Linked DNA regions of Homo sapiens: region 2 is linked to region 1. The links come from fine-mapping of genetic effects on gene expression. Tissue or cell type: atrial appendage. Region 1 holds a variant in brackets; the other region holds the start of a gene. All regions are shown on one strand. Distances are from middle to middle. Region 1 overlaps ECT2L (epithelial cell transforming 2 like). Region 2 holds the start of ECT2L (epithelial cell transforming 2 like).

What was found. PIP is the estimated chance that this variant, and not a neighbour inherited with it, causes the effect.
Region 2: ECT2L starts here. The variant in region 1 is the best candidate, but not a certain one, in a credible set for the expression of ECT2L in atrial appendage (GTEx, PIP 0.75).

The regions. Positions count from the first base shown.
Region 1 is chr6:138,861,559-138,865,955 of GRCh38, forward strand. ECT2L (epithelial cell transforming 2 like) reads left to right here. Exons shown (of 22, transcript NM_001077706.3): 11 at 1,069-1,161; 12 at 3,438-3,620. Among named protein-coding and RNA genes, the nearest start is that of ECT2L, 68 kb to the left of the region's middle. The variant T/G (reference allele first, on the strand shown) is at 1,866.
Region 2 is chr6:138,794,114-138,798,510 of GRCh38, forward strand. It overlaps ECT2L (epithelial cell transforming 2 like), which reads left to right and starts at 1,974. Exons shown (of 22, transcript NM_001077706.3): 1 at 1,974-2,079.

The DNA.
Region 1 (4,397 bases):
CCACATTTTGATGGGGATTTTTTTTTCTTGTAAATTTGTTTAAGTTCCTTGTAGATTCTGGATATTAGCCCTTTGTCAGATGGATAGATTGCAAAAATTTTCTCCCATTCTGTAGGTTGCCTGTTCACCCTGATGATAGTTTCTTTTGCTGTGCAGAAGCTTTTTAGTTTAATTAGATCCCACTTGTCAATTCTGGCTTTTGTTGCAATTGCTTTTGGTGTTTTAGTCATGAAGTCTTTGCCCAGGGAAGGGGCTAAATTTTAACCATCATATTCCATCCTGTTTTTAACTTTTTAAAATCTGTCCTCTTACAATGAGACTTCTCCTTTGAGTCAGACTATTTTAGAAAAAAATATATAGATTTTTCTCTTTCTTTGGGCTGGGTATTCCAAATCTGAAAATAAGCCTCAGATCAAACTCCATGCCCTCTTTCCCCATCCTGTAGTTTAGTCCTCAGACTGTTTCAGCTTCAATATTTAGGGGTGAATGATGAAGTGTTCATGGACTGTTCAATGGAGAGGTTTGAATGGAAGATGAGAACTGCTAGTGGCCTTTCTTGGCCATCTCTTTAGTGCCCCTACGTAATATTTAACTGCTCTGGATTAGTCTGTTCTTGCATTGCTATAAAGAAATACCTGAGGATGGGTAATTTATAAAGAGAAGAGGTTTAATTACTTCATGGTTCTCCAGGCTGTATAGGAAGCATGCCACTGGCATCTGCTTGGCATCTGGTGAGGGCCTCAGGGAGCTTATAATCACGGCAGAAGGTGAAGGGGCAGGTGGTGTGTCACATGGCAAGAGCAGGAACAAGAGAGAGGGAGGAGGTGCCACACACTTTTAAACAACCAGATCTTGTGTGAACTCAGAGTGAGAACTCACTCATCACTAAGGGGATGGCACTAGTTATTCATGAGGGATCCGCCCTCATGATCCCTCCTGCCAGGCCCCACCTCCAACGTTGGGGATTAGATTTCAACATGAGATTTGGAGGGAACAAATATCCAAGTTATATGATCTTCCATGGCAAAATATATGAGGAAACTAACGAAAGTGTTTTTGACTATGCAGAGGCAGGAATTGAAGTTCTTTCCCAGCTGTCTCAACTAACTGGCACGTTCTTTACGGCCCCCACTGGGATTGCAACTGGCTCTTACCAGCACAGTAAGTGTTATGGGAGCTGAGCGCCACGTCCAATAACACAAGCCAACTCCAGAATCACCAAAAGACAAAATCCAGTTAATAGTACTGGTATGGCTGATATCCATTACTCTCTTTCATTCCTCCCCTGAAGGAACGCTATTAGTTCCCAAACTAGGTAATCTCCTATCATTCAGTCATTTGCTTAGAACAGGATTATTTATTGCACATATTTGCCCCAAATCATCATTTTCAAAAACTGTTGAAAACATAATCTTTAGCAATTAAGCAAAGTTGCTGATCTAGAAAAGTAAGAAGTACAAAGAAAAACTTTTCTTAGTAACATATATATAGTCAATATGGTTTTATTTGGAAAAATAAATCGTAGCTACAAAGAGATGGCAAAGAGGCTGGCTTAGTTTCCATTACAGTAGCATTATCTGAGAGGAAAAACAATCAGAGAAAATACACCTGAAAGCAAACTTTCATTTAGATACTAAAGCTGCAAATTTAGATTAAAATGTAACACGGGCTGACCAACAACAGAACCAAATTGCTTTGTTACACCGACACCACTCATTTTCCTCTTTAAAACACCCTTGATTCCTATCAAGTAGGGCTGAGAGTGATGCAGAAACTATATAAATCATTGCTTCTCTACTCCTAAATGCCAAGGGCCTTTTAGAACTTGGGAAAGCTGGCACAACTGTGAAACTGGTAAGGGAAAA[T/G]ATTCTTTGTAGATATAACAAAAGTGCTTTGACCTAACATAGTTTTGAAGCAGAGGTCACTTGCTAATTTTAGTTAATATAGCAGCGTCACCAAACGGTAGCACATTTGGCTCTGCGGAGAGAGGAACTGGCCTAGCAGAGCACAGCAGGGTATGAACGCTGTTGCTGGTAATAGGGAACAGGTTTTCTTTCTTTTTTTTTTTTTGAGACAGAGTCTCACACTGTTGCCAGGCTGGAGTGCAGCGGCACGTTCTCGATCTAGGCTCACTGCAACCTCCGCCTCCTGGGTTCAGGCGATTCTCCTGCCTCAGCCTCCTGAGTAGCTGGGACTACAGGCATGTGCCACCACGCCCGACTAATTTTTGTATTTTTAGTAGAGACGGGGTTTCACCATGTTGGCCTGGATGGTCTTGATCTCCTGACCTTGTGATCCGCCCGCCTCAGCCTCCCAGTGTTGGGATTACAGGCGTGAGCCACCGCATCTGGCCGGGAACAGGTTTTCTTCTTTTTCTCCTCCTCTGCCTTCCTTTCCTCCTGTTCATCCTCCTTTTCCCTCTCTTGTTCTCATTCTCCGTATTTAAAAAAAAAAAAAAAAAAAAAAAAAAAGCATGTTGTGGCCGGGCGCAGTGGCTCACACCTGTAATCCCAGCACTTTGGGAGGCTGAAGCAGGCAGATCACCTGAGGTCAGGAGTTCGAGACCAGCCTGCCCAACATGGTGAAACCCCGTCTCTACTAAAAATACAAAAATAAGCTGGGCAGTAGTGGCACACATCTGTAATCCCAGCTACTCAGGAGGCTGAGGCACGAGAATTGCCTGAACCCGGGAGGCGAAGGTTGCAGTGAGCTGAGGTCGTGCCACCATACTCCAGACTGGGTGACAGAGCAAGACTGTCTCAAACAGAAACAAAAACATGTTGTGAACCTTTTCACATGTCTATCAGTAACAGTAGAGGAAACAAAGCAAATACACTATGTATCCATTCAGGACAGAAAATCAAATTTAACACACCACTGCATCATCCAGTAATTGTTTTTTAAGAAGAGAAACTTTCTTTAAGCACCTGCTACAGTCCTGTAGACAGATTTGTAGAGCGAGGTAGCAGTTTGACATAATTTAAGAAAGATAAGGATTTGGTGATGACAGGGTTGACTTCCATTGGCGATGACAGGGTTGACTTCCAATGGCCTGATGGGGAAGCCGTGTAGCGTGGGATTTCTTGTGTTTTCACTTTTAGACTGGAAAGATAAAGCAGTGCATTCTTCCTCAGATGACAGCTCAGCTTCCCAATGCACAATCCAGCAGCTGTTTTTTTTCTTTAAACATTGAATGGAATATGTCAGCCTCAGCTATCAAAGAGTAGACATGCATTTGAAATGATTCATTGAATCCTTTTCGAGTTTCTAATTTTACCTTTGAAAACAGAGGATGGGTGTTTGTCTTAGTCTTCTAATGAGAAACGATAATAAACTCAATACAAATGCAACTAAGATTTTGTTGTACTTTAAACAAGATGTAGAATTGTTTCATCTGAGCTCAAGCCTGCAATAATAACAGAAGAAAATCATGTCAGTTCTTAGTGATTGGCTGGGATCCCAATGGGGAAAGGCCCCCTCTTCCATCTACTTCTGCGAATCGAAGCTACAGACGTGGTCCAGCTTCACAGACTTCCTAGAAGAAACCTTGAAAACAGTAAGGAAGCAGCTGTATCCTTTCTTCAAGGAACTGCAGAAGAGCATCAGTGGCAGGATGATAGGTAAGCAGTCTTGCTACTTCTGTTGCAGGTTAATTATGAAGTTGCTTTCATATCCCGAGTAAATACAAGTTTAGTTATGGCGCAAGTAAAATTTTACTCTTGAACATCTCCAGTAAAATTTTATCTCCTAGGTTGCTCACACGGCCTTTCAAATATAACGAACAACCACTAACAACAAATATATTCAGGTTCAAAATGTTGAAGCTCGTTCTTATTTTAACATTTTACCACCTTATTAATTCTTGTTTGTCACTTATTTACCTAGACACAATTTGCTGTTTGCTAAGCCAGAGAGCTGTGCACTTTTCCCACTAGAATTTGCTCTGAAAGTTAAGCGCCTCTTATACCCCAGCACCTATTACATAAATTGTTCTACAATTAAAGTTCTATTTATTTTCTGTCTAAAATATATAATTCAGTGATGGGCTCCATGGGCCTTTGCTGAGCCTATTAGACGTGGTTGAATGAATGTTTCCATTCACACCCCAGCCCCATGACGGAATGAATGATCACAGCAGAGCCCTTTGAAAACAATTTACTTCCTCAACTTTGCATCTTTACCTAAATTAGTCCATTCTTTAAGTATATTTCACCATCTAGGTAAAGAGTTTTTCTTTTTCTCATCTGCAACTACTCATATCTATTCAATTTTTCCCCTACTACTTTCCGCCTGACTAAAACACCATATGAATCAAATCACCCTCTATCTATGCCTTTCTTCTTTTCCTCTGCCCAGCTCCATATTTAAGGTCTGTTTACATAGTTACCATCTACACA
Region 2 (4,397 bases), 67 kb before region 1:
TTCAGTGATTGTTAGTAGATTCATAGAGTTATATACCCATCACCGTGATCTAATTCTAGAACATTTTCATCACACTAAAAAGAATCCCATTAACAGTCACTCCTTGTCCCCTAATCCCCTCAGCCTTTGGCAGCCACTAACCTCCTTTCCAGCTCTCTGGATTTTCTATTCTAGACATTTTATATAAATGGAATCATACAATACGTGGCCTTTTGTGACTGGTTTCGTTTACTTAGCATGATGTTTTCAAGGATTGAAGCTTCATCCATGTTATTGCATGTACTTCATTTCTTGTTTTGGCTGATCATATGCCATGGTATGGATAGAACACATTTTGCTTATTTATAACTCAGTTACCTTTGTGTTGCAGAAGATGCTCATGCTTCTGTCTCCTTGTTTCCAGGCCACAGAAATAAGCACCTAATTGGGGGAGGGGAGGAGAGGGACTTACTGAATATTTTTCAAATCTTGATTTTAATAATTTTTGGCTTTCTGAATTCAAAGTATTTTGATCAGTAAATTGGTCTTTTTAATACCCCTTTTAAAAATTACAGCATCATGGAGGAAACTTCATTTGGGTTGTGAGAATAGGGATTTAAGGGGGAAAAAGTCGTACTCTAGGGTCTGACAGGGCGAAAGGACACTTTGTCATGTGACATGTTTTTCTTGGATTGGTCCTGAGATAGAGTAAAGCAAAAAGCTGGTTCCTGCGGGTTGTGACAGAGCAGTGGATTGACCTTGTTTATTCACTTGGTTCATTCGCCCTTTGTGTCACAGGGCCCTAAATGGGTCCCAGGTAGCGAAATATTAGCTTATCTAATTTGTATCCTTTCACACTCCTTAAACACATGTTCAAGGAAACAGGAAAAAATGCAGTGCCTGGATTAGAATAAAATTTAAGGCCTGGTTTGGTGACAGGCACCAGTACTTTTAGCTACTCTGGAGGCTGAGGCGGGAGGATTGCTTGAGCCCAGGAGTTCTAGGCTATAGTGTACAATGATGATTTTACTGGCATACAGATGAAAAAGAAAAAGATATTTGAAATAAAAATAAAAATATAGTGCACAATGACCAGGCCTGTGAATAGCCACTGCACTCCAGCCTAGGCAGCATAGCAAGATCACATTTCTCATATGAAACTTTACTAGAATGAAACTTATGGTTTATTACATAGATGTTGCTTATTCGTTGTAGGAAAAATTGAATTACAGATGATTTTTAAAACTACCAGAGCAAACCATTTAACCTATTTGTGTACATACTCCCAGATTTCTTACACACGTTGCAAAAAAAATAGATCGTACCATTCTGCTGGTTTTCTAAGCTGCTTTTTGTAAGTAATGTACTGTGAGCATCTTTTCATGGCCATAACTATTACATACAAAAGAAAAAAACAGGCTTCACAATAAATAGTTAAAAGACATTTTGACCTGAAACTAATGAAGAAGGGTTTTTTGGTTTTGTTTTTGTACCTCCTGTATAATGCTGAAATTGGTAATTCTGCAGTAAATATTAACATTTTCTGAGGATCTGCTGAAGATGAATGTGACAAAAAATAAGAAACTCCACTTTCCTCATCACACAGCCTTAATTAACATCGCTGGCTTTGTTTGAGATCAAGCAAACGTTGGCTTCAGTGTCCAAGTCTCTTCTTGGGGTCCCACGGCCTTGGGTCTGGCACCTCTGCTGGGCACCTCGCAGGGCTTCCGAGACGTGCCGCGACCCACGGGACCCCACGGAAGCTTTCTCCCACCGCAAGCTCCCTGGAGGCAGGGAAAGGAGCCGGGACCCGAGCCTAGCTGGCCTCAAGAGAAGGGCGGTGGCTCGCACGGCGCGGGCGGCTTTGCTCACTGCAGCTGGGGAGATGCAGGTTGGCCGTCCGGGCGCGGCGGCGGGAGGGGCTGCGGGCCTGTGGGGCGGGGTGGTGGCTCCGTGTTGTTGGATCCCTATGGAGATGACCCTGTCCCTGCCCCACCCCTCTCCGGAGCTGCGGCCCGAGTTGGCGCACTCGATTTTCACTGCGCGGTTCCAAGAGGAGACAGCCGCCACTGTACCGGGCCTCATAGCCACTTCCTAGAGGTAAAGCCCGTGGCTTCTGAGCCGCTAGTCTTTTTCTTGGGGCCGCCCGGGGCACATCGCCTGGGCCGGCTTAGTTTCCCAGTGCAGTCGCCCAGGAAGACCCTAAGCAGCGCTGAGGGGCGCAGGGCCCTCCCTCCGCGACCCTGGAGTCCCTTAGCAGCTCTGGAATTAACCAAGATTCTGAAGAGGCTCTGGGGAGAAACAAAATCCACGCGTAGGGTAGGGTTTGCATCGGGCCATGCCAAGTAAACTCTTACCTCCTCCAGAGAACTGATTTGGGATCGAAGTAAAGTTCTTGAACACTTTGGAAAACGCTGATTTTCATAGGTTCACACCAACTGCCTTCTTCCTTCTGACAGTTCTCTCCCTCTTTCCTCCTATGGGGTCCAAAAATGTAGGGAGTAGGGTGGGGGCTGGGTTGGGGGAATGAGGGAGGAATACAAAAAATCTACTGTGAATATAGGTCTTGGTTATAAGGATAGCTCTAAGAGTTAATATGCTAAGATTTGATGAGCAGGACAAATAAAACAGTGGTACTTTAAAATATCGATTTAAAAATACCGATGCTGTGCTTATTAATAAACTTTGCATATGTATCAGAACACAATATCCTGACATCATTGGTGTTAAAGTTCACTGCAACCCATGCAATTGTATCCAAGCCTGTTAAAGTCTGTTCTGCAGGAACTGACATTTGTGCTCCACAGAAACCTCAAAAATCATGCTCTACAAACACTTATTTCAGTGGGAGGAAGAAGGGTTAAGGACTTGGAAGTTTTATAGCAACAGTTGCATCTTGTTTGTTACAGCTTTAGTTTTATAGCTTTAAACTTATAAATCAGTGAGCACATCCACCATTTGAAAATACCAGCACAAGTATGGTATTTTCTATCACCGCCTGTAAGATCAATAGCCCAGGTTTCCTCAAAACACGCCATTATTTTCATTATCCATTGCTTAGTGTGTACTTAATAAAAATTATATACTGGCATGTAGTTTTACATGCCCTAAATGTGGGACATTTAACTCAACTGGAATTGTCTTTCATTTCTGTTTTTTCACCAATCACACTTACTTTTCTTCTACTCCCGTTCTTTTGTGCGATCTTTAGAACCAGATACCTTTTTGGAGGCATATTTAAGGAAGTAAATTTTTGATAAATAAAGGAATCATTGCACAATTTGCATGTGTGAATTGCAGAAGTACGCGCATGTAGGTACATACCTCTGCCGAGGAGCAGTGTTTTAATTTCTAAGCCACTCTGTCTACTGTAGTGGAGAAGGACCAGACTAACTTGCATTTCTCCAGCTGTATAACAGATAACCTGTGGAAACACAGTTAATTGACATCATTGCTCTTCTGTGTGATCCCAGTGAGGATTTAGCTCTCTATATGGGCTGGCAATTGTTCAGCCATTTCATCTTTTAATCTGGCTTTGGTTGTTCTGAGAGGAAAAAAAAAACAAAAAACTTTTTTCTCTTTACTCTCACACACTCAGTACAGCCCTTCACCTCTTGTCACCAAAATGTATGGGAATTTCTTCCCACCGACAACCAATTCTCCAGTGGCCACCAACTCTACGTCCTATAATTTAACCCAGTTCTGACACTGTGTACCTGGAGTTAGTGTCAGATCCCATACGTTCAGGGCTCAGTCCCAAAAGACTGCCCCCCACTTCAAATGCCAATCACAAGTCCCAGGTTGTGACTATATGTTGTTTATGATTAACCAACCAGTTACAAATCTGGATTCCCACAAGCCCCTCCTCCGGTTTGATTAATTTGCTAGAGTGACTCACGGAATTCAAGGAAACACTTTACTTATGTTTGCCCATTTATTATAAAGGATATTACAAAGGACAGATGAATAGCCAGATAGAAGAGAGGCCCAGAGAAAGGTATGTGGGCAAGGGTGTGGAACTTCCATGCCTTCTCAGCCCCTCCACATGTTCAGCTATCCCAAAGATCCCTGAATCTTGTCCTTTGGGATTTTAATGGAGGATTCATTCATAGGCACAATTGATGACATCATTGGCCATTGGTGATCACTCAACTTGAGCCCTTCTCTCTTCCCCAGAGGTCAGAGGATGGAGCTGAAAGTTCCAGCTGCATAATCACATGGTTGGTTTCCCTGGTAACCAGCCCCCATCCTGAAGCTATCTAGGGGTCCACCAAGATTCACTTCATCTGAACAAAAGATGCTCCTATCACCCAGGAAATTCCAAGGGATTTCGGAGCTCTGTGTCAGGAACTGGGGTCAAAAACCAAATATTAGAACAAAAGATTCTCCTAGCATCCCTATCTACAAGAGTTTTAGGA